Regions from separate parts of the Homo sapiens genome. Here region 1 is linked to region 2. The links come from fine-mapping of genetic effects on gene expression. A gene starts in region 2. The other region holds a variant in brackets. All regions are shown on one strand. Distances are between the middles of the regions. Region 1 overlaps LIN52 (lin-52 DREAM MuvB core complex component). Region 2 holds the start of LIN52 (lin-52 DREAM MuvB core complex component).

What was found.
Region 1: its variant is fine-mapped to the expression of LIN52 in whole blood (INTERVAL, PIP above 0.99).

Annotation. Positions count from the first base shown.
Region 1 is chr14:74,197,059-74,209,292 of GRCh38, forward strand. LIN52 (lin-52 DREAM MuvB core complex component) reads left to right here. Exons shown (of 6, transcript NM_001024674.3): 6 at 1,864-4,435. The coding sequence ends at 1,919. LOC105370564 (a long non-coding RNA gene) reads right to left here. Exons shown (of 3, transcript XR_944025.3): 3 at 11,803-11,893. Among named protein-coding and RNA genes, the nearest start is that of VSX2, 36 kb to the right of the region's middle. RefSeq lists a silencer at 5,115-5,315. The variant G/A (reference allele first, on the strand shown) is at 6,132.
Region 2 is chr14:74,079,510-74,091,743 of GRCh38, forward strand. It overlaps LIN52 (lin-52 DREAM MuvB core complex component), which reads left to right and starts at 5,447. Exons shown (of 6, transcript NM_001024674.3): 1 at 5,447-5,484; 2 at 11,723-11,797. The coding sequence starts at 5,466. ALDH6A1 (aldehyde dehydrogenase 6 family member A1) reads right to left here and starts at 4,944. Exons shown (of 12, transcript NM_005589.4): 1 at 4,838-4,944. The coding sequence starts at 4,885. It also overlaps a transcript of BBOF1 not described here and the pseudogene RNY4P21. RefSeq lists enhancers at 5,356-5,535, 6,476-6,565.

The DNA of each region.
Region 1 (12,234 bases), 120 kb after region 2:
TTGCATTAAGGGAAATGATTTTCTTGCCAAATAAGCAAGGCACATTTAAAAAGACTCCCATCATGTAGAGAATGGAGCACTGAGGGCCACTAACTAGTCATATTTGTTAATGGAAAGGAAGGAAACTAACATTTTTTGCATTTCTACTTGGTTCTAGTTCTTTGGTGTATTATAATTTATCCAGTCAACACTTACTCAGCAGACACTAGGTCTGCTGAGTCTGTAGCAGGTCGGTAAGAATCTTCGCAGTGCAGCAGAGCAAGGATAAAGAAATGAGGAATAAAATAAGGGCTATATGAATTAATCAGAAATGTTAACATCTCTGATGACAAGTGAACAGGAGAGCACGTGCTCTGGAGTTTGGATCTGATTGTGGATCTTTTGCCAAGGGAGAGAAGACCAAAGCTCTTAACAGTCTCTGCCTTCAGTTTTTACATTTTAGTGGAGGAAGACAACCATATAAGCTAGTAATTGCATGCAAGTCTTATGGGAACTTTCTTGTACAGGATTTGCTGTAAATCCATGAAGGAAGGAATGGTCTGTTTGATTTGGTCTGGGTTGGGGTTGTGAGCACATGAGGCAAGACCCAACACTGGGCTTCTATGCCTAGTTAATGGAATTTCCTTTCCCTTTGTTGGGGCACAGGAACTAGTGAAAGATGGGGAATGTATAGACTGAAGTTACAAAAGCCTCCCTGTGGTCCCAGAGGTTGTGTAGTTTTTATTTCTTCATTGTACAAGAAAACAAGAAACTGTTAAACTTAAATTGGGGCAGAGGGGAGCTGGAGGCCATTCATCTAGCTCCATTTGCTCTGGACTTGGGAAAGGCAACAAGGAGGCCAGGGTGAAGGTCCTTCTCATTCCTGAGAGTGCCTCCCTAGCCACCTCACTTCTTTGGCCAGGACGGAGATGTGTTCTTGGGAGACCACACAGCCTACCCCGTGCCTACTGCATGGTTCCAGAAGGCCTGGCTTCCAGAGCCAGCCATCAGCGATCAGAAACTTTCTGCACTGTTAAATCCATTTAAGAAATCTGAAAACATGGCCTTGCAGGATGAGGATGAGGATGAGGAAGGGGCTGTTACACTACGTATGCTTTCTGAGATCTAAAATGGGAGACCTCTGGAGTAGCCCTTGTAATTGAGAAATGTTTTACTTTCATTTTGGAGCCTTATATGTAGGAAAGTAGCTGTATAAACCCACTTGTAACTATAGCATTCAAAGATTGATGGTGCTGAAAGCCGGAGAAAGACACATAAACCTTGGCTGGCTATATTAAATAGCTAAGGACTGACAATGCCAAGGGAGAGAAGACCAAAGCTCTATAAACCCTACTTTATGACACCATCCACAGATGAACTGCACTGAGGGAATATAAACCCTGTTATATTACAGTATCCAGGGACTAACACTGCTGAGAGATAGGGTAAATGATCTCTAATTTTGATTTGAGATTATAAATGTCCAGAGACCAGCAACCCAGAGAAGACTAATCTTGGTTGGATTTTAGGCTTCAAGAGCAAACCCCCTGAGATAGTGAACATGAGTATTAGGTTAGATTCTAGAGACAGAGATAGGTTTTGGGGGAATCCCCTGGTGATTTGTTTAAAGGTGGATGATAAAATCTTTCCCAGTCATTTGGCATGTATCTCAATTGCCAACTTCAGAATAGCTTTGTACAGTTTTAGTTGTCTATAGTGGTTTGTTTTTACCCCCTTTTAGGTTAGTTGGTGATGATTGAATCTGTTGTGATAGCAACTTGATATATAATTTAAATCAATCTGCATTTTTAAATTAAATCTTCCTATGATTCTTTTTTCCGATTTTAGGTTTTCATTGATCATTTGTTTGCTTTGTGATTCCAGCCAGAGAGATGACACGGGGGAAATTCCTCAATATTCTAGAGAAGCCCAAGAAGTAGCAGCTGCTTGCGGACAGGATGTCCTGGGGTCCGAAACCAAGCTCCCTTCCCGGTGCACCTCTAACAATGCACACCTCACTGCTTGCTTGGGAGAGGCCAGAGGGTGTACCTCCAGGACTGCCCTCTCCCCTGCTCCTGGCACTCTACACGTCTGAGGACATTCAGCAGCAAGAGAAGAATCTGCTCTACCCAAGGATCATTGCAGTTACTCAATCAACTTTCAGACTTGAACCTTCTTAGCCTCGGATATTGGTAACAGCTGAGGGCATATCATTCTTAAAGGTCGAAGTCCTGCTTTCTCATTTCTGGAAGTGATTCAGGAGCCCCAGGATCTTACGGTTGATTTGACTCAGTCATGGCAGTCAGTTGTGACATGTTGATTGGATGGGTTCTTTTGAATTGTTCTTGATCTCTTAGAAAGTGTTTACGATGTGAGGAGACCAGAGACCAAGTAGATTCTGGACCAGACCATGCAGCCTGACCTGTGAACTCTCCAGTATATACTAAGTTCCCAGAATCCCCAGCTGAAGAAACCAGAATCTTCTCGAAATGTATATCTGTTTTTTAAAACTTCTATACCTCTTATGATAGTCCCATTTGCTTTTCATTCCTTACTTCCCAGCCCCACCTTCTAGTTCTGACTTCGGGCAGAGGGATCCCTGAGTCCCTCCTGGAATTAGCTTGTATAGTGAAAGGCCCATCCAAGGTTGTCTAAAGACCAATGTGAAGGTGACAGAAAGGACTTTTGAGTTCTAATTAATCTGTTACAGCTTCAAGCAAGAAAGTCAGTATAGCCTGAAAGACAAGAGAAACGGGATGGTTTATAGGAGTTCCCATTTGGTTGAAAGCTAGAAGCCCTAATTGACCTTAAAGTAACATGCTATGGGATGGTGGGATTGTCCCCTCTGACAGCACATATGAAATAGTTCATCTATATAATAGAAACGCACACACACGAAAAAGAATCTTCTGACTTAAATACAACTTTCATGGAGTTCTTCACCACTTATCTGTCTCTGTTAAAATCTGAAAATCTAGCCCATGGCTAAAATCTATTATATGTGTTCTCCATATTTCTTGTATAAGCCAGTCCCCAGCATCTGATGTTTTGAGAAGTGCATGGAGTTTCCTAAACTTTGCACAAAAGAATATCCTGGGGCCGGGCATGGTGGCTCACGCCTGTAATCCCAGCACTTTGGGAGGCCGAGGCAGGTGGATCATAGGTCAAAAGATCGAGACCATCCTGGCCAATATGGTGAAACCCTGTCTCTACTAAAATACAAAAATTAGCTGGGCATGATGGTGCATGCCTATAGTCCCAGCTACTTGGGGGCCTGAGGCACGAGAATCGCTTGAATTCGGGAGGTGGAGGTTGCAGTGAGCCGAAATTATGCCACTGCACTCCAGCCTGGGCAACAGAGTGAGACTCTGTCTCAGAAAAAAAAAAAAAAAAAAAAAAAAAAAAAGAATATCCCTGTGGCAATAGTCTGATGGTGTTTGGACACAAGAAAAGTTATGGTTTTGAGTCGTGAGTGTTTGCTAGGGCATGGCACTCTTCAGTTTAACAGCTGATCCATTAAACCTTTTCTGACATTTGTGCCTTGTTCTCATGCTAGAATTAATGCTGGATTTTTCTCTCATTTGACCATCAATGTAGTTTTACTTATTGAAAGGAAAAAAGACTTAACACAAGATAGGAAAGATGAGTATGAGAAGTAAAACATTCTGCTGGGGTGCTACATAGAAGGTTAGGTTGTAGGGGCTTTGATTTTAATTTAAACTTATTATCGATTGATATTTCTGTATCTCACTAAATGCGGTTGAAGAGTGTGTGTGTGTGTGTGCGCGCGCGCATGTGGCCAAAAAATAGTGCCATAATGTCAAATTCTTCCTTTGCTCTGTTTTTGAGAGTTGATGACATCAGGCACTTTTCAGTGTTTGGGGAAATTGATTGGGATACCTCCCCCAAACCAACTCAAGTCTGTAACTGGAAGCCAGGTGGTTGGTTTTCTGGTCCGCTTTGTCCTCTTTCTTTTACCGTCATCCTATTCACCAGCACTTAATGTAAGTAGATGTTTTAGAATTGCAATATTTATTGGTTTAGTATTTGTCATCCTTAGAAATGTTAATGATGTATTTTTATATTGATAATATAAATTTATGTACAGTATGTGTGTATATGTATTTCAGGATGTTATAGTATTGTACTTTGTATGTGATGGTTTTTGTGTCTTCATAATAAATATGTCCCTTTTACAGGAGGGTGAGTTTTTCCTCAGAGGGCCGAGTTGGATATTTAAAGCACAGACCTCCCCAGAAAGTACAACTGTAATGATAAATAATCTACTGTTTTCCCCCTTAATATACTTAATGGATAGTTGGGGGCTTTACAGTCATCTACTTGGTCTCCTGCCTTCCATTCTATCCTACCACTGCCCAACACCCGAAAGTAGTATTTAGAAACCCTTAATACCTTCCCGTGTCTACTAATAAAGTCTCAATCTCTTGACCCGGCATTTTAAGACTCTCTACATGTAATCCTAAGCAACCCTTCCGTTTCGTTTTCTTCCTCTCCTATATATGAAGTCTCTGTTGCAGTTACTCTGAACAGTTCCCAGTTTCTCACTTGAGTGCCTTTGCTCCTGCCTTTGAGTTCCTAGAAGGTCTTGGATCCCTTTTGCATCTGGCAAACCTATGCTTCCTATAATCTCCTGATGATCCAGCTGGAAATGGTCCTTCCCCTACATTCCTATAGCATTTACCCATATCATCCCTGTGACTCTTACCATAGTCTGCCTTATATTTAAGTGGTCTGAGTACTTTTTCTTTTTGAGACAGAGTCTCACTCTGTTGCCCAGGCTGGAGTGCAGTGGTGCAATTTTGGCTCACTGCAACCTCTGCCTCCCGGGTTCAAGCGATTCTCTGCCTCAGCCACCCTAGTAGCTGGGATTACAGGTGCATGCCACCACGCCCAGCTAATTTTTGTATTTTTAGTAGAGACGGGTTTTTGCCAAGTTGGCCAGGCTGGTCTCGAACTCCTGGCCTCAAGTGATCCTCCCGCCTCGGCCTCCCAAAGTGCTGGGATTACAGGTGTGAGCCACTACGCCTGACACTGAGTACATATCTTATTGCCCTACTAAATTCAAAGCTTCTCAAGGTATAGCTGTCTCCTGCACATCTAGTTCTTCAGTGTCTTTGAACTAGGGGTTCAAAACCTGTTTGCTTGCAGGCTTCTGGTTACACATGATAGATTGAAAACAAGTATTTATCTGCCATCTTCTAAATCCCTTAGTGTGGGTTCCTTTTCAACCATGTTCAAGAACTAGAAAAGAGGAAGTACTCATTATTGCTACTGCTATCACTCATTGATAGTTTACCTGCTCTGGACCAGAATATGCCCTTTTAAAGAAAGCATTTCATTTTAAGGAAAGCAAATTGCTTCTCATCATAGGCCCATCATTTATTTCCAAAAAAGACATCTGGATGAACAGTAGATTTCTGTGATCTAGAAAAGCATGGCTGATTGACTAAGTAGGGACAGTGTTAGGAGTGTTCTAAGTCTTTAGAGACTATTTTTACGGTAAGTAATTGTTTATTATTTGCCTACAGATATTTTTTCCCTTTTCCTTTGCCATTCCAAATACCATCCTGTAAAGCATCTGTCAGCTGTGAGCAGCAACATTCTGAAAAGCATAGTATTGGAGCTTGGAGACACATTTGCAAATTCTTATTGACATTTTTTTCTTACCAGCACTCTCATTATTTCTTGCTGTCTTCAGTCTCACAGATTCTAGGCCTCTGCTGATTTGCTTGGCCTGCCTTCCATAGGTTAGAACACTTAAAGTTCACAGGGTATTAATTGTGTTGATATTGAAATGCCATCATTCATTTTTATCTTTCCATTTTTGTCATATTTTTTAAATGGATGCTTGCTAACTGCTCCGTGGTTTTAGTTCTCTAGCTGCTCTTCTGGATGCTCCCAGATCAAGGCAGTGAAAATGGAACTGATGAAAGTCATTCCCTTGTCCCTGTGGCTTCAGAAGTGTGTTTGGACTTCCACAGGAGCTTTGAAATGAAGCCGAGAAATTTCATTTCCAGTGGGATTCCCTGACCCCTCCTGTTTCCTCCAGGATTAAGACATCACAAGAAGGTGAACAGGCAGAGCAGGAAGTGAGGAAATGGACAGTTGGGCCAAGGTGGATGGTCGCAGAA[G/A]CCAAATAACACAGTCTCTTACCAGTTCTCAGCTTCTGCACTAACTCCGTCTCCAAGAATTTGGTTATGTTCTCCATTTTCTGTTTTCTTCATCTCGTGAGAGCTACAAGGATACCTGGTCCCTATGTGGGCTTTGTTTCACCAGAGAGTCTTGCAACCCCCAACCCCAGAGAGTGGCAAAGGGTGGTGTCTCCACGGTTGTAAGTTCTGATGGACTGGAACTGATTTTTCCTATCTATGTAGGCTTTTTGGCATTTGGGGTGTGTGTCCTTGTCTATGCCTAAAGAGGCCACTGGCCTTCCCACCCTTTGCCTGGCGCTTTTTCCTCTCGAGCAGCTGGGGGCTTCAGACGATACCAGGTGTAACTGTGAGGCTCCTGGTTGGCGTGAGTGCTGGCAAAGCCTGTTAATTAGCACAGAAACACCCCAGTGCTCCATTAGCTGGGCCAGGCATTTGGAACCTTCCCCTCCTGTGGGCCCCTTCCTCCTAATGAGAGCTGGAAGAAGGGCCCTCACAAAACACTGCCTCAGAATAATATTCTGCTTTGTCCCCACCAGTAACCAGGGCTGACAGGATCACTCTGTCCATTTCTCTTCTAATTAGCACAATTCCAGCATGGCCTGAGCCAGCAAATAGAGAAAAGCGATCAAAAGCGATCGGACAACCGTACCGAATCACAAACACAAAGAGGGCCATTCCCTGTAATTAGGTGAGACAATTCCTCAGTCTTTTCTCGGCTGGAGTTTGCCGCTAAGACTCTTGCTGTTTGGGTCCCAGCAACACAAGTTACATGTCTCCCTGGGACACTAATAAGCCCCAAATTGTCTTCCGCTTCACACAACTCTACCCAGAGGACAGACATGGGGTGGTGGGGCAGGTGGCGGGGAGGGGGTGGGGCAGTGCAGTGAGGGGACGGGTCTCCCAACAAGCAGCTGCTGCAATGTTTCCCCAACTTCAAGAAGCAGACACTGGGGCTGTGGGCAGAGAGGTAAGAGTCAGTTGGCTTGAGAGAACTGCTCTTGGCACAGCCTGGCCCCTGTCACTTGAGCTGGAGTCTGAAGCACTGAGAATTTCTGACCCTCAGGGGAAGCCCCCTCTCAGCTATTTGCCCTACTCTGTTCATTCGCTGCCTCCTGTCTATGGCCCCCTCACTCCTCCCACCTCTGCAGACTGGTAGCATCACTCCAGGAACTACATTGAGCCCTTCACAAACTGTAAGCCCTACACAACTATAGTTACCATTGCAAAGAAAGCTAACACACAGCACGTGAGTGAATTCTGCCCTAGAAGACTGCATGACCTGGAAGGGGCACCCACTGCCCCCCTCACTCTGGCCTTCATTTCTAGCACCCATCACCTTTATGTCCCTGATTGTGTCCCCAACCCCTGCCTACTATCTCCTCTCTCCTGAAAGATCCCTGTTTTTTTAAAACAGAAAAGTGGCCCATCTGCCAGGGCAAGAAGCTGTAACTGGCCGCGCTCCATGTGGCTCAGAGGTTGGTCACTTAATGAACAAAAACAGCTCCCCCAGGATTGCAGCCCATTACGGGGATTACTTGGGGCGATACAGCCGTAAACTTGGTCATAGCCAGGGACAAAGGAATGCAGGGGAGAGTGGCAGTTGGAATCTCAATTAAACCCAAGTTCGGAGCAGAATTGGGCTCACATATTTTCATCTCTCTCTTGCCCTCTGCTTTCTGTCTCGATCTCTATACCTGATGTTTCTGAAAGTGACCTCCAATACCAAAGGAGATTCAGTTATGTAGAATCTGAGGAGCCAAAAAACTCAAGTAATCAGAGTTGCATTGTTTTTCTACCTTCAGTTTTCTGAGGCACAGAGAGGATAATGATAAGATTTGACTTTTAAAAATAACTTTTGGGACATGCCAAAGAATTGATCCAAATTTGTTCAATTTCCTACAGTTTCTTTGGTTATAAACAGAACTACCTGGCACATAATAGGTGCTAAAATAAGCATTTGTTGAAAGAATGAACTGTGCCTTGACATTCGGTGTTCATAGCCTCATTGCTGGTCTAAGATATAGTAAGTGCTTGGATTTTGAGAGAGAGGCAGGGGTGATCTTGTGTAAGTTACTTCTCTCTAAGCCTTGGTTTCCTTAGGACTTTTTCCACTTTAAAGAGTCATATCAGCATCATGGATAAGGGCACAGGCTCTGAAGTCAGGCTGCCTGGGTGCAAATAGCACCTAACTACTAGGGTAGCTGTAGAGATTAAACGAGTATTGCAAAGTGTTGAGAATGGTGCATGGCATATCTTACCCATTACGTATATAATTGCTTGATGGATAGATCTATAAAACAGATTCCATGTAGTATTTAATTTTTTATTATACTCACATTTGTTAAAAATTGACAATCCCTAGGCCGGACATGGTGGCTCACACCTGTAATCCCAGCACTTTGGGAGGCTGAGGCGGGTGGATCACTTGAAGTCAGGAGTTCAAGACCAGCCTGGCCAACATGGCAAAACCCCGTCTCTACTATAAAAAAAAAATGAAAAAATACAAAAAAATTTAGCTGTGCAGGGTGGCAGGTGCCTGTACTCCCAGCTACTCAGGAGGCTGAGGGAAGGGAATTGCTTGAACCTGGGAGGCAGAAGTTGCAGTGATCTGAGATTGCACCACTGCACTCCACACTGGGTGACAGAGTGAGACTGTCTCACACAAAAACAAACGACAAACAAAAAAAACATTGGCAATCCCTATAGGGAAAATATAGTAACTTCTGGTTACCTTGACTAGTCAGTTAAGCAGAATACCATTTCTGTAACCCTTCAGAAGAGCTGACAGTTTACTATTTCTCCTACCCCCATCCTTCCACCCACTGAGGCCCTGTGCCAGCATGGACACTCAGTAGAAACCATTGTTGACTCTACAGACAGTGGCATTAAGCAAGGGAGGGAAAGGTATACTTTGTGACATTGGCAAGTTTCTGAACTGATACTGAACTTGGCATACATAAGCCTCAAATCACTGTACTTTGCTAATCTTTGTAGTCCTAGTATTTTCTGAGCATCCATGCTTTTCCAATCACTGCACAGGAACACACTTCCCTGTTTGATTCAGTCATAACCTCCTACCCCTAACCCACCAGTCCTCCACATTCCTCCAGATAGTTTTCTTTTTCCTTTCCCTTCCCTTCCCTTCCCTCCTTCCCCCACTCCTCCCCCTCCCCCCTCCCTGCCTCCCTCCCTCCCTCCCTTCCTTCCTTCCTTTTTTTGGTGAGACAGGGTCTCCCTCTGTCACCAAGGCTAGAGTGCAGTGGCACGATCTCAGCTCGCTGCAACCTCTGCCTTCTGGGCTCAAGCAGTCCTCCTGCCTCAGCCTCCAAAGTAGTTGGGACCACAAGCACGTGCCACCACATCTGGCTAATTTTTGTATTTTTTGCAGAGATGGGGTTTCGCCATGTTGCCCAGGCTGGTCTCGAACTCCTGGGCTCAAGTGATCCGCCCACCTCCGCCTCCCAAAGTATTGGGATGAGCCACTGTGCCTGGGCCAGATAGTTTTCTATGGTGTGAGATTTGTCAGGTTCTCGCAAACCTGTCAGGTCCCTTTCCAGGACTAAGCAGGGTCCACTCAGGCTTCTGCTCCCGCAGCAGCCTCCTCTGGGCTTTGCCTTCTCTGGGAGCCCATGGAGAGACCCTCGCCTGACTGCAGCCTGAGGCCTCAGGGTCAAGCGAGGCTGAAGGTCACATCCCAGGGCCTTTCTGGACGCAGCCAAGCCCCAGGAGCCAAGCTGGCCTGAGCCAGTGACTTCACACAAAGGAGCAGCTGAGAAGAGTCAAGTTGGGAAAGTCAGTGACTTGAGGCTGAGTAGAAATGAGAAGTGCTGGCTGTGGCAGGACCCATGAAGGATATGTGAGGATTGGAACCAGAAATGATCTCTGAGGAATGGTGGTCGGGGGGCTCATGGGGAAGCAAGGTCCTGCGAGCTGCTTCACCTTGGCCTCCTACTTCCCGCCATCCACCTCTGCTGCTGCTGCCTCTGCCTTCAAGTGGCCCAAAGGCTGTTCAGATGTGCAGCTGTTGAGTAAATCATGGTACATTCCCGTAGCGAACTGCCATGCAGCCATTTGGTGTGTTTGCAAAGAGGTTATGATATCATGGAAGAAATGGTTTTGTCATAAGGATAAGTGAAATGGCCAGATATAACAATTACAGTGGGGTGGTGAATGGAAGGCAATAGGCGAAGGTGGTAATAGTGCTTGCTGCCTGGTTGGAGGAATATGGGGTATTGTTGTTTTCTTCTACATTTTCCAAACTCTCTACGGAAACAGGTATTGATTTTATAATACAGGGAGAAAAAAGCCTCTGGGGCCGGATATACAGATTTTAAAAGCCCTGCTTCTCAGCTCAGCCTGTTATCCTGCACACATGTGCATACATACATAGTTCATCGATAACCTTTGTATATGGTAATGAAATTTGTTCTTTAGTATGCAAATGTATATCAATCTGTACACCAATAAGTGTTTACTGAGCACCTAATAAGCATCCAGCTATACCCTAGGATCTCTACCTCATTGCATGTAATGTGGAAAAAAAAAACTTGTTCCCTATTCATGACAGTCCCATCTCTCCCCACACTCCTCAGAGCCTTTGCCCAGGAGCAGAAAAAAATCATTCAGTCAGTAGGTGTTCAGTGTTGCCAAATAGCTATCTTTTTCCTCAGTCTTTCCTTACCTACCCTGAGAAAATATGTCTCACCTAACTTTGCTGTAGAGTCGTAGCGTTAAGTTTCCCCCAGCTCTTGGACATGCAGCATCTTACTTCAGATGTGTTTGCGAGAGTTTCCTTCGCTACTTTCTCCTTGCTTCCCTTCCCCTTCCCAATTGGAGAGAAGGAAGAAAAGATGAGTTGGGGGTCAGGAGTAGAAATGGGTCAGAGAAGAGTCTGTAATTATACTCATGTTTTCATCACAAACAACCAGTTGGAGGCGCTGCACAATCAGGAAAGAGAAGGAAGTGCATTTCATCTGAGTTGGAGTCTGGAAGACACAAGGGATATGTAGGAGGTGGTTCTCACTTTTATTGGGAGACAAGTGTGTATATAAAGTCAGTTTCCCTGCAGGATGAGAAGCATAGTCATGGAATTGCTAAAGAAGATATAAAACCCTCAGGACCAAATGACATGAGAAAATGGAGAAGAATTGACCTTGTCCCCAAGAAGTGACTTGACCACATCAGCCCCAGGTTCCCAGAATATACAAGCCCACACATCTGACTAGGCCTGGGCTAGAAAATGGGCGGAAATTGGGAGCACTCCCCATTTTCCTTGATAGAAATAGATGGAGCAATGAGTAAAATTCTATGCCTGCCACATCTGCTGCGTCCTCCACTAATGTATGCACTTGTCCATCCTGTTTTCCAAAGAGGGACTGCTTTCTGTCCAGCTCAGAAGAGCAAAACGAAGAAGGAACAATGTCAGCCATGTGTAGCCCTGAATCCTGCCCTACCATTGCGGTCGCTCTAGGGCTTTCAGCCAGAACTGGGGTGGCCAGATCTGATCAGTCTTCCAAAGGAGCGAAGAGCACTCCAGAACAGACAGCTGAAGCAGTTGTTACAGCAGCAGGATTGCAGGGCAGGCGACGCTTCACAACATCACCAAAGACTGATGCAAATTGGTTTGGTTCTGACCCTGTCACACCAGGAAGGATAATGACTCCAGCAGCGCCAGGCATGGGAGGGAGCACGTGGTGGGGGCTGTGAGGATTGGTGTCTCACTTCACATCTTCATTAATGATCTGAAAGACAGGGGTAAACAGCATGCTAATGAAACCTGCAGATGATTGGTGTTACAAACCCCAGAGAGGACAGAGAAATAGCACAACGAGACCCAGAGAGCTTAGAAATATGGGCAGGAGACTGTCAAATGAGACTCGTCCTAGGAAAATGAAAGTCGACACGTCAGGGAGGAATGATGAAGGTGCCTCTGGGTGGGGGCCTGCAAACCTGAAAAGCAGAGATGGGTGGCAGGGTCAGGAGGTTGAGGGATATGATAAGGTTTGGGGTGTGTTGGAGGGAGACAGAGGAGCTGACCTTGAGGACCCAGGGGACAAATACCCTTGTGCATTTCTGGTCAGGA
Region 2 (12,234 bases):
CGCAAGCTCCGCCTCCTGGGTTCACACCTTCTCCTGCCTCAGCCTCTTGAGTAACTGGGACTACAGGCGCCCGCCACCATGCCTGGCTAGTTTTTTGTATTTTTAGTAGAGATGGGGTTTCACCATGTTAGCCAGGATGGTCTCGATCTCCTGACCTCATGATCCGCCCGCCTCAGCCTCCCAAAGTGCTGGGATTACAGGCGTGAGCCACTGCGCCTGGCCTAATTTTTTGTATTTTTAGTGGAGATGCGGTTTTGTCATGTTGGCCAGGCTGGTCTTGAACTCCTGGCCTCAAATGATCTGCCCACCTTGGCCTCCCAAAGTTCTGGGATGACAGGTGTGAGCCACGACATGTGACCTCTACGGATAATTTTAAAAATTAGTTGGGCATGGTCATGTGCACCTGTGGTCCCAGGTACTTGGGAGGCTAAGGCAGGAGGATCACCTAAGCCTTGGAGATTGAGGCTACAGTGAGCTGCGATTGTGCCACTGCACTCCAGCCTGGGTGACAGAGCGAGACCCTATCTTAAAAAAACAAAAACCAAAAAACAAAAGCAAAAGCTAAACTCTGCATCTTCCTTTTGCCAGTTTGCTATGCCTCCTATAGCCCACCTCTCGGTAAATAGGGCTACTCCTTAACAAGTTGCCAAAGGAGAAACCCAGATACTATTCCAATTCCTCCCTCTCTCTCTGCAGGGAAGCAAAAAACTCCTGGCAGTCTGTCCTAGAATTGTTTGAAACACATCACTCACCTCTAGCTGTCCTGCCATTATCCCAGTCTATACCATCATTGTCTCTCACTTGACCTTCCATAATAGCTTCCTAACACATCTCTCAGCCTCTAATGTTAAACTCTTTCTTTTTTTTTTTTTTTTTGAGACAGAGTCTCACTCTGTCACCCAGGCTAGAGTGCAGTGGCACAACCACAGCTCACTGTAGCCTCAATCTCCAGGGCTTAGGTGATCCTCCTGCCTTAGCCTCCCAAGTACCTGGGACCACAGGTGCACACGACCTCGCTCTCAGGCTCAAGTGATCCTCTTGCCTCAGTCTCCCAAGTACCTAGGAGTACAGGCACATGCCACCATGCCCAGCTAATTAAAAAAAATTTTTTTTTGTAGAGATGGGGCCTCCCTATCTTGCCAGGGCTGGTTTTGAACTCTTAGCCTCAAGCGATCCTCCTGCCTGGGCCACCCAAAGTGTTGGGATTACAGGCATGAGCCATCACACCCAGCCTACTCTTAAACTTTCTGAATCTAGTTTCCATCCCATAATCAGAGGGTCTTTCTGAAACATAAATCTGGTCAGATTATTCCCTTGTTTAAAATTCTTCTTTGGCTTTCCACTGCCCTTGGAATAAAGACTAATCCCCTTGATGTTGCTTAGAAAACGCTACATAGTATCTTTGCTTTTCTAGTTACATAACTGGCTACTTTCCTCCCTGTTCTCTATGCTCCTGCAATTTAACGTGTGTCTTGCTTTCTTTGCTCTTGCACATGCTGCTCTCTCTTGCCTGGCACTGTTTCATCTAATTTCCTTGGCTCATTCCTACTCCTTTAGGTCCCCACTCAGCCATCATCACTTTCTCTAGGAAGTCTCAACCTCAGGTCTATGGTAAGCAGCTGATTGTGAAGCTCATAAAGCACCCAAATTCCTTTATTTCTCATCTCACGCTATGAAATAATAGCTTGTCTAATGATTAACTTTCTCTCCTTTGAGGTCACTAGATTGTTGTGTCCCCAGCCCCTAGCACAATTCCTGGAAGAGAGTAAGTACTTAGTAAGCAATATTTTGCACAATGAAAGAATGAGTACTCGCCAAGCAATCATTTGATATTGTTTCAGTACTCTCAAGTTGGCAGACAATGCACTGATCAGCCAACTTGAGCATTCTAGGCCACTTAAATTTTATTTTTTCACTTGTATACAGCCTCCCTGCTGTTAAGAGGATGTAAAAAGCACTACATCTGGTATAATAGAACATATTCATATAGTTTTTTGACAGGTTCGATCTTCTATCTTTTCTTCATTTCCTAAGAAACACCCATTAGCATTGTTGCTGAAGAAACTATCCTGTGGCCAGTCACCCCAAACTGCTGCTCTCTAGATGTTTACTTCCTACTTGCTATATCCTTTATAAGGAACTCCTTCCTCTCCTGGTTCATGGCCTGCTAGTCCTGCAATACTTGGCTCTTTCCCTAGGTCCCCACAGTATCCCAGATACTCCTATTGTTTATCACTTATTGCAGTACAATAAAGGAGCTTTCAGTGAGCATTTTACTGTAAGCCTATGTCAGTGCCTAACATAGAAAGAGATGGCAAGACTTAAGTTCTGAATTTTCAGCCCCATCAGTTACTAGTTCGGTAACCATATCACCGACAGTGCAAGTCGCTACATCTCTTCAAGAGTAATTTTCTTGCCCAGGTGCAGCGGTTCGTGCCTGTAGTCCCAACACTTTGGGAGGCTGAGGTGGGAGGATAGCTTGAGTTTAAGAGTTCAAGACCAGCCTGGGCAACATGGTGAAACCCTGTCTCTACAAAAAATACAAAAATTAGCTGGCATGGGGGCACGATCTGTTGTTGCAGCTACTCGGAGGGCTGAGATGGAAGAATCACTTCAGCGTGGGAGGTCGAGGCTGCTGTGAGTTGTGATTGCACCACTGCACTCCAGCCTGGGTGACAGAGCGAGACCCTGTCTCGAACATTCCTTTATCTCTGCATGGGAGTGATAATATCACAAGGAGCAGAGAGAGGTTTTAGGTTAAGTTTGACTACTCTTCGTGGCAGAGAAAAATAAGCTGAATACTTAAAATAATTGAAAACATTAACTTTCTCCTCTATAAATCCTTTTGATAGTTCTCTAATATTCATGGCTGCCAAAATCGAGGTTTTTTTTTTTTTTTTTTTTTTTTTTGATGGAGTCTTGCTCTGTCGCCCAGGCTGGAGTGCAATGGCACGATCTCAGCTCACTGCAACCTCCGTCTTCCGGGTTCAAGCGATTCTCCTGCCTCAACTTCCTGAGTAGCTGGGATTACAGTCGCCCGCCACCACACCCGGCTAATTTTTGTATTTTTAGTAGAGAAGGGGTTTTACCATGTTGGTCAGGCTGGTCTCGAACTCCTGACCTCAGGTGATCCACCCACCTTGGCCTCCCAAAGTGCAGGGATTACAGGCAGGAGCTACAGCGCCTGGCCCGTAGGCTACTTTTTATCGAACTTTTAATCAAAGATTCACGTTACAACTCCTAGTTGGCTGAGGATTACTCTATCTGTTCTTTTCCAGGTCACTTCAGAAGTTTCTCCAAATGAATCAGAAAATACATAGTGTCTGTTTCTGAAATAAAAGTACATGGAAAGAGAGATTCTTCTCCTTGATGGAAAAGGACAAAATACTTTCTTAAGGTTCTCAATGACTCATTGTGATGGGAGGGGAAGAGGAGGCAAAGGAAAAAAGCCAATTTCAGTAAAAGATTTCAAGAAGTTGGTAAGAAAAATATAGGGTGGAAACTTTGTTTTCCTGCTACTAAAAAAAGATACTAGAACAGAACAAGGATCGCAGCAAGAAATATGAGTGAGGCCAGACCATCTGCCAAACCCTTCAAACTCATCCTTTCTACCTTCCCCATTAAATAGCATATTTAAAAATGAATCTTTGCTGACTCTGCCAAGAATCTTAAAACTGCCCAAGTTTCTTTACTAGAACTCACGGAAACCTGGTGAATACTAATATTACCTAAAAGCTCAGCAATATAGAGGAAATTCTCAGACTGGATGTAATGAATAAGAACGGCACTGTTGTTTCTTGCAGACTGTTTCTTGCCTGCGGTAAATCTTGCCACATACTCTAAATCCTTGGTAGGCCATGAACAGGGGAAAGACTATAAACAGAGTTGGAGATTACAGGCCTCAGGCATGCAACTCCTGTAGCTTTACCATTTCTCCTTAGGTTGGCTTCAGAGAGGACTCAATCCCCCAAGTGCAGAGATGAGGGTGTGTAGCACTAGAAGAGCTGATTTTGGGGTGGGAACTTAGACTTCTTGTCTTACCTGGCTCCCACTTTCTATCACCCGTTTTAAAGATGTTTGGTACCTTGAACATACATGGAACATACTGGTAGCTTTAACTGTGTGCCCTTATCTACCCTATCTATGTAGATGTGCCCTATCTATGTAAACTGTAACTTAGCTGAGAAAAAGTTTAACTCAAAGTTTTGGCAAGAAAGGGGACAGCCAGTCCATGGAAAATACAAAGAGCCACACTTAGGGAAAATAGCTTAGCAAATGGCTGCCTTTGGTGAAAATCTAGAGTCCACCTCTAGAAGGAAATTCAAAGTTCATACACTGACCCTCGCCCCTCGCGTCCCCCCTCCCCCTTACCTCAGATCACCACGGATAGTGAAGTAGGGTGGGGGAAGGGAGCAATGGCAAAGTGGACGCTCACGGCAGGGGACAGAGTAACCAAAAAGAGTAGTTTCTGGGGGAGAGAGAGAAGGCTGGTGCAGAGGTAAAAAGGAAAGACGGTGGGCGGATGGAGAGATGAGGGCAAGAGAGTGACAGCAGGGAGCGGGCAGAGCTGGAGAAGGAGAGTGGGCGAGAGCCAGAAAAGAGGAGGCTTAGGAGTAAAAGGGTAGAGGGCCAAGGGTAACAGCCCAGGGTTGGATCCGGGACCAGGGAGGTTATGAAGTGAGGGCTGGGCATGGGACAGGGCCGCACAGGTCGGGTAGGAGGTCTGGCCAAAAAGGGGTTGGGCCAAGAAGGTGGTCCCGCCCGAGGATGGCTCAGGGAGCGGACGGAAAGGATCCAATTCCTAGCTTCATGGTGCCTTGGCACCACCCTCACTCGCCTGCAGGATCCGGGCTCGCACTGCCGCCGCCGCCAATAGCGCCGCCATGGCTCTCGGCCGCCCTAGCTCCGCACCCCGCGCCTCTACTGCCCAGAAGCACTACAGCTGCCAGGCCTCGCCCTCCATCCTGCCAGGCTTCCTCATTGGTGGGGAGGACTATTTTCTCCAGCCAATCACTGGTCCGAACACCTGATTCCTCTCCTCACACCCCCGTCCTGGGGATAAGTGATTGGTTAGGAGCGAAAATGCTCTCGCCCTCTGCCACCTCAGCCAATGACGTAGGCGGAGGTAGAGAAGACGCCCCTGACTTGGACACTCCCTACCGAGCACACGGGGAAGACGCCCCCCTAACCTGGAACTCCGATTGGCCAAGGGCGGAACCGAGGCCCCACCCCCCCACTGAAAAAAGTAAATAAGACCCTTCAAGAATTTTGCAGTCGCTCCACCTCAACATCCGCGTAAGGGGCGTGGCTATACTTAGGGGCGGGGCTAGGCAAAGATTGCCCTATGAGGCGAGGGAATGAGACTGGGCTGCGAGTTGGGGATAGGGTTTCTCTTTGGGGGCGTGGCTTATGGAACCTCGTTTTCCCGCCGACGGTTGGCCACGTCACGTGACATGGGTTGGAAGATGGCGTCTCCCACAGACGGTAAGAGCCGGCTTAGAGATCTTTGCCTGCAGCCTCCTTCTTTGCTCTACTGGGAACATCCACTCTGTCTCTGCCCCTCGAACATACATTTCTTTCTTGGGCTCTTCTCCTTTCCCTTTTATTTTTTTTCTTGAGATCCATCGCCGTCTTCAGCTCACCGGTTCTTCACAGCAGCTCCGGAGGTGCCCAGTTTCCCCGCTCTGTACCAGGCGTGTGGAGGAGGGCACTAGGGAGGGACTCATTCTGGGTAAAAGGACAGGGGGGTCGCCCTGTGCCTTCCTTATCTCTATTTGGGCGAGGCTGAGGGTCGAGGAGGAGATGTTTCTGGAGGACGTGGCTTACTGTAGTTTTTTCCTTGGGGTACCCATTGAAAGGATCAGTTCTCTTCTGATTGAGCGCACGGATGGAATGATTCTCACAAACCCTCGCAGGGCTGCTGGCTGACCTCATCTCGATACTGAACCGCAAGAGAAACATGATCTCTCTCCTGTCTCCTCAGTTTGGGACCATTGCCGTGGCAGCAAGAGAAGCGGGGGACGTTCTCGGCCCCTCGCCCTGAGAGTCGCGAGGAGAATCAGTATTGAGCTTTTAAGTGTCGTCTTGCACAGGTCGCAACCTGTCTTCCATCTGCTTTACGTGTTGTTTCTTAAGGCTGAGTGAATTAACGATTTCTGTTTATATATTGTGTAAAATGCAAGTCATTTCAAGTAACAATTAAGTTGTTTTGGTATACTCCCATGCTTTTCCTCTTGGTTCTGCTTTAGAGAGTTAGGGTCTTGCAGTCATTTTTAAACTCATTTTTAGTTCTACCATCCTCATCCCAACTATATATCGATTTTATTGATATATAGGTTTCCTTCCCTTAGACAAAAACATTTTATATTTGGAAGGAATCTTGGAAGTTCATTGCAGGAATGAAGAAATTGAAGCCAAGGTGAGCTATATTAAGTACCTGCTACATGAAAGGCATAATGCTAGGTGCTTTGGGAGACCAAAAGATGACTCAAACATATAAACATTTTTTTTTTTCAGTTTCAGTTCTCTTTTTAGATGTCACCTCCCAAAGAGTCTTTCTTAGAACACAGTATCTGGAGTTGCCCTTTCCCACCATTATTCATTATCTCAGTATCTTCCTTGTCAGCATAGTTACTCTGTTAACTTTGCCCCTTTTGCGCTAGATTGTAAATTCCAAGTTTGTCTTGTTCATAGTTGGATCCAGGTTTAGCACAGTGCCTGACGAACAGTAGGTCTTTAATTAACATTTATTGAAAGATTGATTAGATATATGCAGAAATAATATATTACTTGATCTTAAGTTTTAAGTTTAACCGAGTCTTAAATTTTGTGAGCGCAGGTACATACTGTATTAGAAATTATGGCTGGGCGTGGTGGTTCACACTTCTAATCCCAGCACTTTGGGAGGCTGAGGCAGGCAGATCGCCTGAGCTCAGGAATTGAAGACCAGCCTAGACAACATGGTGAAACCCCATCTCTACAAAAAAATACAAAAATTATCTGGGTGTGATGCCACAAACCTGTAGTCCCAGCTACTTGGGGGGGCTGAGGCAAGAGAATCTCTTGAGCCCAGGGGGTGGAGGCGGCAGTGAACCATGTTCATGCCACTGCACTCCAGTCTGTGTGACAAAGCGAGACCCCGTCTCAGAAAAAAAAGAAGGAAAAAAAAAGAAATTATGGATGTTTGGAGTCAAAAGAGATTCTCCTGCCTGGGTGCGCTCTTGCAAAAATGTCCTTCTCTTGCCAGAAAGAAGGGCATTTAAAAAGTCAGGCAAGGGAATAGGGAGTTATTGTTAATGGGTACCAAATTTCAGTTTGGGAAGGTGAAAGAATTCTGGAAATGAATGTGATGATTGCACAATTAATGTACTTAATACCACTGAAATGTATACTTAAAAGTTATTAAAATGGTAAAATTTATGTATATTTCACCACAGTTGAAAAAAAAAGCCAAGTAATACAAGTAGAAGTAATTGTTATTAAACTTTTTAGTTTATTTTTAAATTGTTTTTACAAACTTTGGGGATTTTAGAGATGTGTTCCTTGAGTTTGATTTTTTTCCCCTGTCATCTCTCAATTTAGTTTCCTTTCTTTGGCCAGGAAGAGTATTAAAAACATTAAATTTGGCTTGGCGTGGTGGCTCACGCCTGTAATCCCAGCACTTTGGGAGGGCGAGATGGGTGGATCACGAGGTCAGGAGATCGAGACCATCCTGGCTAACACAGTGAAACCCTGTCTCTACTAAAAAATACAAAAAATTAGCCAGGCGTGGTGGTGGGTGCCTGTAGTCCCAGCTACTCAGGAGGCTGAGGCAGGAGAATGGCGTGAACCCGGGAGGCAGAGCTTGCAGTGAGCCGAGATCACGCCACTGCACTCCAGCCTGGGACAGAGCGAGACTCCATTGCAAAAAAAAAAAAAAAAAAAAAAATTAAATTTTTTTCCTTTTCTAGCCATCTCTATGGTCACTTTATTTGCACTCTTGATTTTTAAGTTTTCATTCTCATCTCTTACAAAGTTTCACTCCTCTCCACCTAATGTTTTCTTTTTAATCTGAAAAAATCAAGTCAAGCACTTTGAACTTAAATTCAGCTTCTAAATAAGTATCTCATTCCAAAATATTCCACGGCCTAGCTCTTTCACTTCTATTTTTAGTGTTCCACCTGTCACTGTCTTTAAAATTTAATTCAGATAATATTTATTTTAATATGTTTGTCATTTACTCTTTTGTCTTTTTCGTGATAAATTTGCTGGAGCGTCTTTGAAAAGGAGAAAACTGAAATTCAAATACAGCCATCTAATTACTTAATTTATGAGAGTAAGACTCACAGCAGAGTCTGAGTTCTATCCCAGACTGTGGTATCATAAGGTCACCCATGTAGGTTATTAGATTGTACCCCCAATAATTTTTTTTTAACTTTCTTTTAGAGACAGGGTCTCTCTCACTCTATTGCCCATGCTGAAATGCAGTGATATGATTATAGCTCACTGCACCCTCAAAGGCTCAAGCGATTCTCCCATCTCAGCCTCCTAAGTAGCTGGTACTATAGGCTCACACCACCATGCCCAGCTAATTTATTATTATTATTATTTATTTTGTTTTGAGACGGAGTCTCACTCTGTCACCCAGGCTGGAGTGCTGTGGCATGATCTCGGGTCACTGCAACCTCCGCCTCCTGGGTTCAAGTAATTCTCATGCATCAGCCTCTCCAGTAGCTGGGATAACAGGCACACGCCACCACACCTGGCTAATTTTTGTATTTTGAGTAGAGACGGGGTTTCACCATGTTGCCCAGGCTAGTCTTGAACTCCTGACCTCAGGTGATGCACTCACCTCGGCCTCCCAAAGTGCTAGGATTACAGGCGTGAGCCACCATGCCCCCACCTTATTATTTTTTGTAGAGATGGAGTCTCACTATGTTGCCCAGGATGGTCTCAAACTCCTGGGCTCAAGCAATCTTCCTGCCTCGGCTTCCCAAAGCACTGGGATTCCAGACATGAGCCACTGTACCTGGCCCAATAACTTTACTTTTGTTATGGTTGAACATTCCTCAGAAATCGGTAACAAAGAGAAGCTAATTTTTGGATGCTTTAATTAAGGCAATGTATTAGTTGAGTTCTTTACAATTAAAATGCCATTGGAAATTCCTTTGGAATATTTGGCAAAACAAATTCAGTTTAGAGAAAAGTACATTTTGTACGTATGTATATTTTCTGGGGAGTGAGTTCATTTTATTTCCCAGATTTCCAGAGATGTGGTTACCCAGAAAATGTTAAGAACTGCTGTTTATAGCATTAAATGAACTAGTTATGCAACTGGTTAGCATACTGAGCATACAATAAAAACTCAACAAATGTTAATATTGAGTACTACTGTGTGCAAGGGAAGAGTGGAAGAGAAATGATGTCAAAGAATTAGGTAGAGGCTGAGTAAGATTTTATAGAGTGTGGTAGATACACATTCACAGATTTAGCTGGGAGGAACTTTAAGCTGGAGAGAGACACGAACTGATTGACGTTTAAAAAAATCAATTCTGGCCTCTTTATGGAGAATAGATTCCGGGGGTGTGAAGGGGAAAGGGTAAGAATGGGAGCAGAGAGATCTGTTAAGAGGCTGTTGAAGTAGTCCAAGAAAGAAGTGATGGTTCCTTGGGTTATTTGATTTCAGGGTGTATTCTGAAGGTAGAAACGACTAGATTTACTCATGGATTGGTTATGGAAGGGTGAAGGAAAAGAATGCATGAAGGATGACATCTGGGTTTTTGATCTGAGAATTGGAATTTATGGTAGTGTTATTTCTTGAGATGGGAGAAGATTGGGGGAATATGGTTTTGAAGATAATTAGGTTTAAAGTTTAAGTGGGGATTTTTTTTTTTTTTTTGAGACAGGATGTGGCTCTATCACCCAGGCTGGAGTGCAGTGGTGTGACCTTAGCTAACTGCAGCTGCCACCTCTGGGCTCAAGCCATCCTTCCACCTCAGCCTCCCAAGTAGCTGGGACTACAGGCTGACACCACCACACCTGGCTAATTTTTTTGCTTTTTGTAGAGATGGGTTTTCACTATGTTGGCCAGGCTGGTCTCAAACTCGTGAGCTCAAGCAATCCACCCACCTCGGCCTCCCAAAACTGCTGGGATTACAGGCGTGCACCACTGCATCTGGCCTTAAGCAGTTTTTTTATATGTAAATAGAGAGGGATTCAAATAACCACTTGGACATAAACCTTTGTAGTTCTTTAGAAAGGTTGGGAATGGAAATATAAATATGGAGTCATTGGCATACAGATGAAGATAAAAGTCCTCATGTTGAAATAGGGGAGTTCCCTAACCGCAGGACATACGACAGGGGTGTGGCTTGTCTGTGTGCACTCAATCCTCTTATGGGAGAGGGAGCACGCAGATGGGCAGGTGTAGGAGTCAGGGCGAGCACTTTTGGGCTCCAGCCCCACGGTAGCATCTAGGGGTGGGTGCCTGTGACTCCCAAAGCCCAAGTGGGCATGTATAACAGTGCACTCTTTTTTTTTTTTTTTTTTGAGATGGAGTCTTGCTTTGTTGCCCAGGCTGGAGTGCAGTGGTGTGATCTTGGCTCACTGCAACCTCCACCTCCCAGGTTCAAACGATTCTCCTGCCTCATCCTCCCCAGTAACTAGGATTACAGGTGTGTTCCCCCATGCCTGACCAATTTTTGTATTTTTAGTAGAGACAGGGTTTCACTATGTTGGCCAGGCTGGTCTTGAACTCCGGACCTCAAGTGATCCACCCATCTTGGCCTCCCAAAGTGCTGGGATTATAGGCATGAGGCACCCCACCTGCCCTGGTGTTTTTTGTTTGTTTGTTTGTTTGTTTTTTTGAGATGGCGTCTCATTCTGTTGCCTGGGCTGGAGTACAGTGGTGCAATCTTGGCTCACTGTAACCTCTGCCTCCCGGGTTTAAGCAATTCTCCTCCCTCAGCCTCCTGAGTAGCTGGGATTACAGGCGCCTGCTACCACACCCAGCTAATTTTTTGTATTTTTAGTAGAGACAGGGTTTCACCACGTTGGCCAGGCTGGTCTCAAACTCCTGACCTTGTGATTCACCCGTGTTGGCCTCCCAAAGTGCTGGGATTACAGGCATGAGCCACCATGTCCGGCTGGGGTTTTTTTTTGAAACACAGAAATTCTGCAACCAGCTTGATTGGTACTGCTCCTTTTTAAAGAGATTTTTAAAGAGTTACTTATTTTGTAAAGTTTTATTTATTTTGAAGCTAGTCAAATTTAGCAGTGGGGGGTTGTGTACAAACTTTAGTGACACTGAGATGAGGCTAGAGAAGGTAGAAACTGATGGTACCTGAGAAAGATGATATGCAAATGATGTCCTTGATAAAGCAAGAGAAGATGGCATCTAGAGTGCTATCAGAAGAGTCTGTTTCATGGAAGGAGAAACACTTAATTCATTGTAACTGGAGGAAAGCACAAGAGTATGAATGAAGATGCAGGTGGGTTCATTGATACTCATTTTTCTTAACACTCCCAATAAAATATCATTCCCATTCATAGATTGAAAGAGTGAGGTTTGGTAAGGGAGAATGATTTATTTGTATTCTATCACGGACCAGTGGCATCAATAGTTACAGAACTCATATCTCTAGACTTCCAGGTGAGTGTTCCAGTTTATGTCCTTTGAGATTGAAGTATCATATACATTAATGTGTTTCCTGTCTTCTTGGTTCATCTGGATGTTTTGTTCTAGGGACAGATCTGGAAGCATCTTTGCTAAGTTTTGAAAAACTTGACCGTGCCTCACCAGATCTTTGGCCAGAACAATGTAAGTTTTTGCCTTCTTTATATCAGAGTCAATGCAGGAGAAACAATGTTCCTTTTTAAAGAGATTTTTAAAGAGTTATTTATTTTGTAAATTTTTATTTATTTTGAAGCTAGTCAAATTTAGCAGTGGGGGGTTGTATACAAACTTTAGTGACACTAACGTTAATAAGTTCTGATAACAGGCTGAGCTTGTTGGCTCATGCCTGTAATCCCAGCACTTTGGGAGGCCGAGTTGGGAGGATCACCTGAGGTCAGGAGTTTGAGACCAGCGTGGCCAACATGGTGAAACCCTGTCTCTACTAAAAAAAAAATAGAAATATTAGCTGGATGTGGTGGCACACACCTGTAATCCCAGCTACTCAGGAGGCTGAGGCATGAGAATCTTTTGAACCCAGGAGGCGGAGGCTGCAGTGAGCAGAGATTGTGCCACTGCACTTC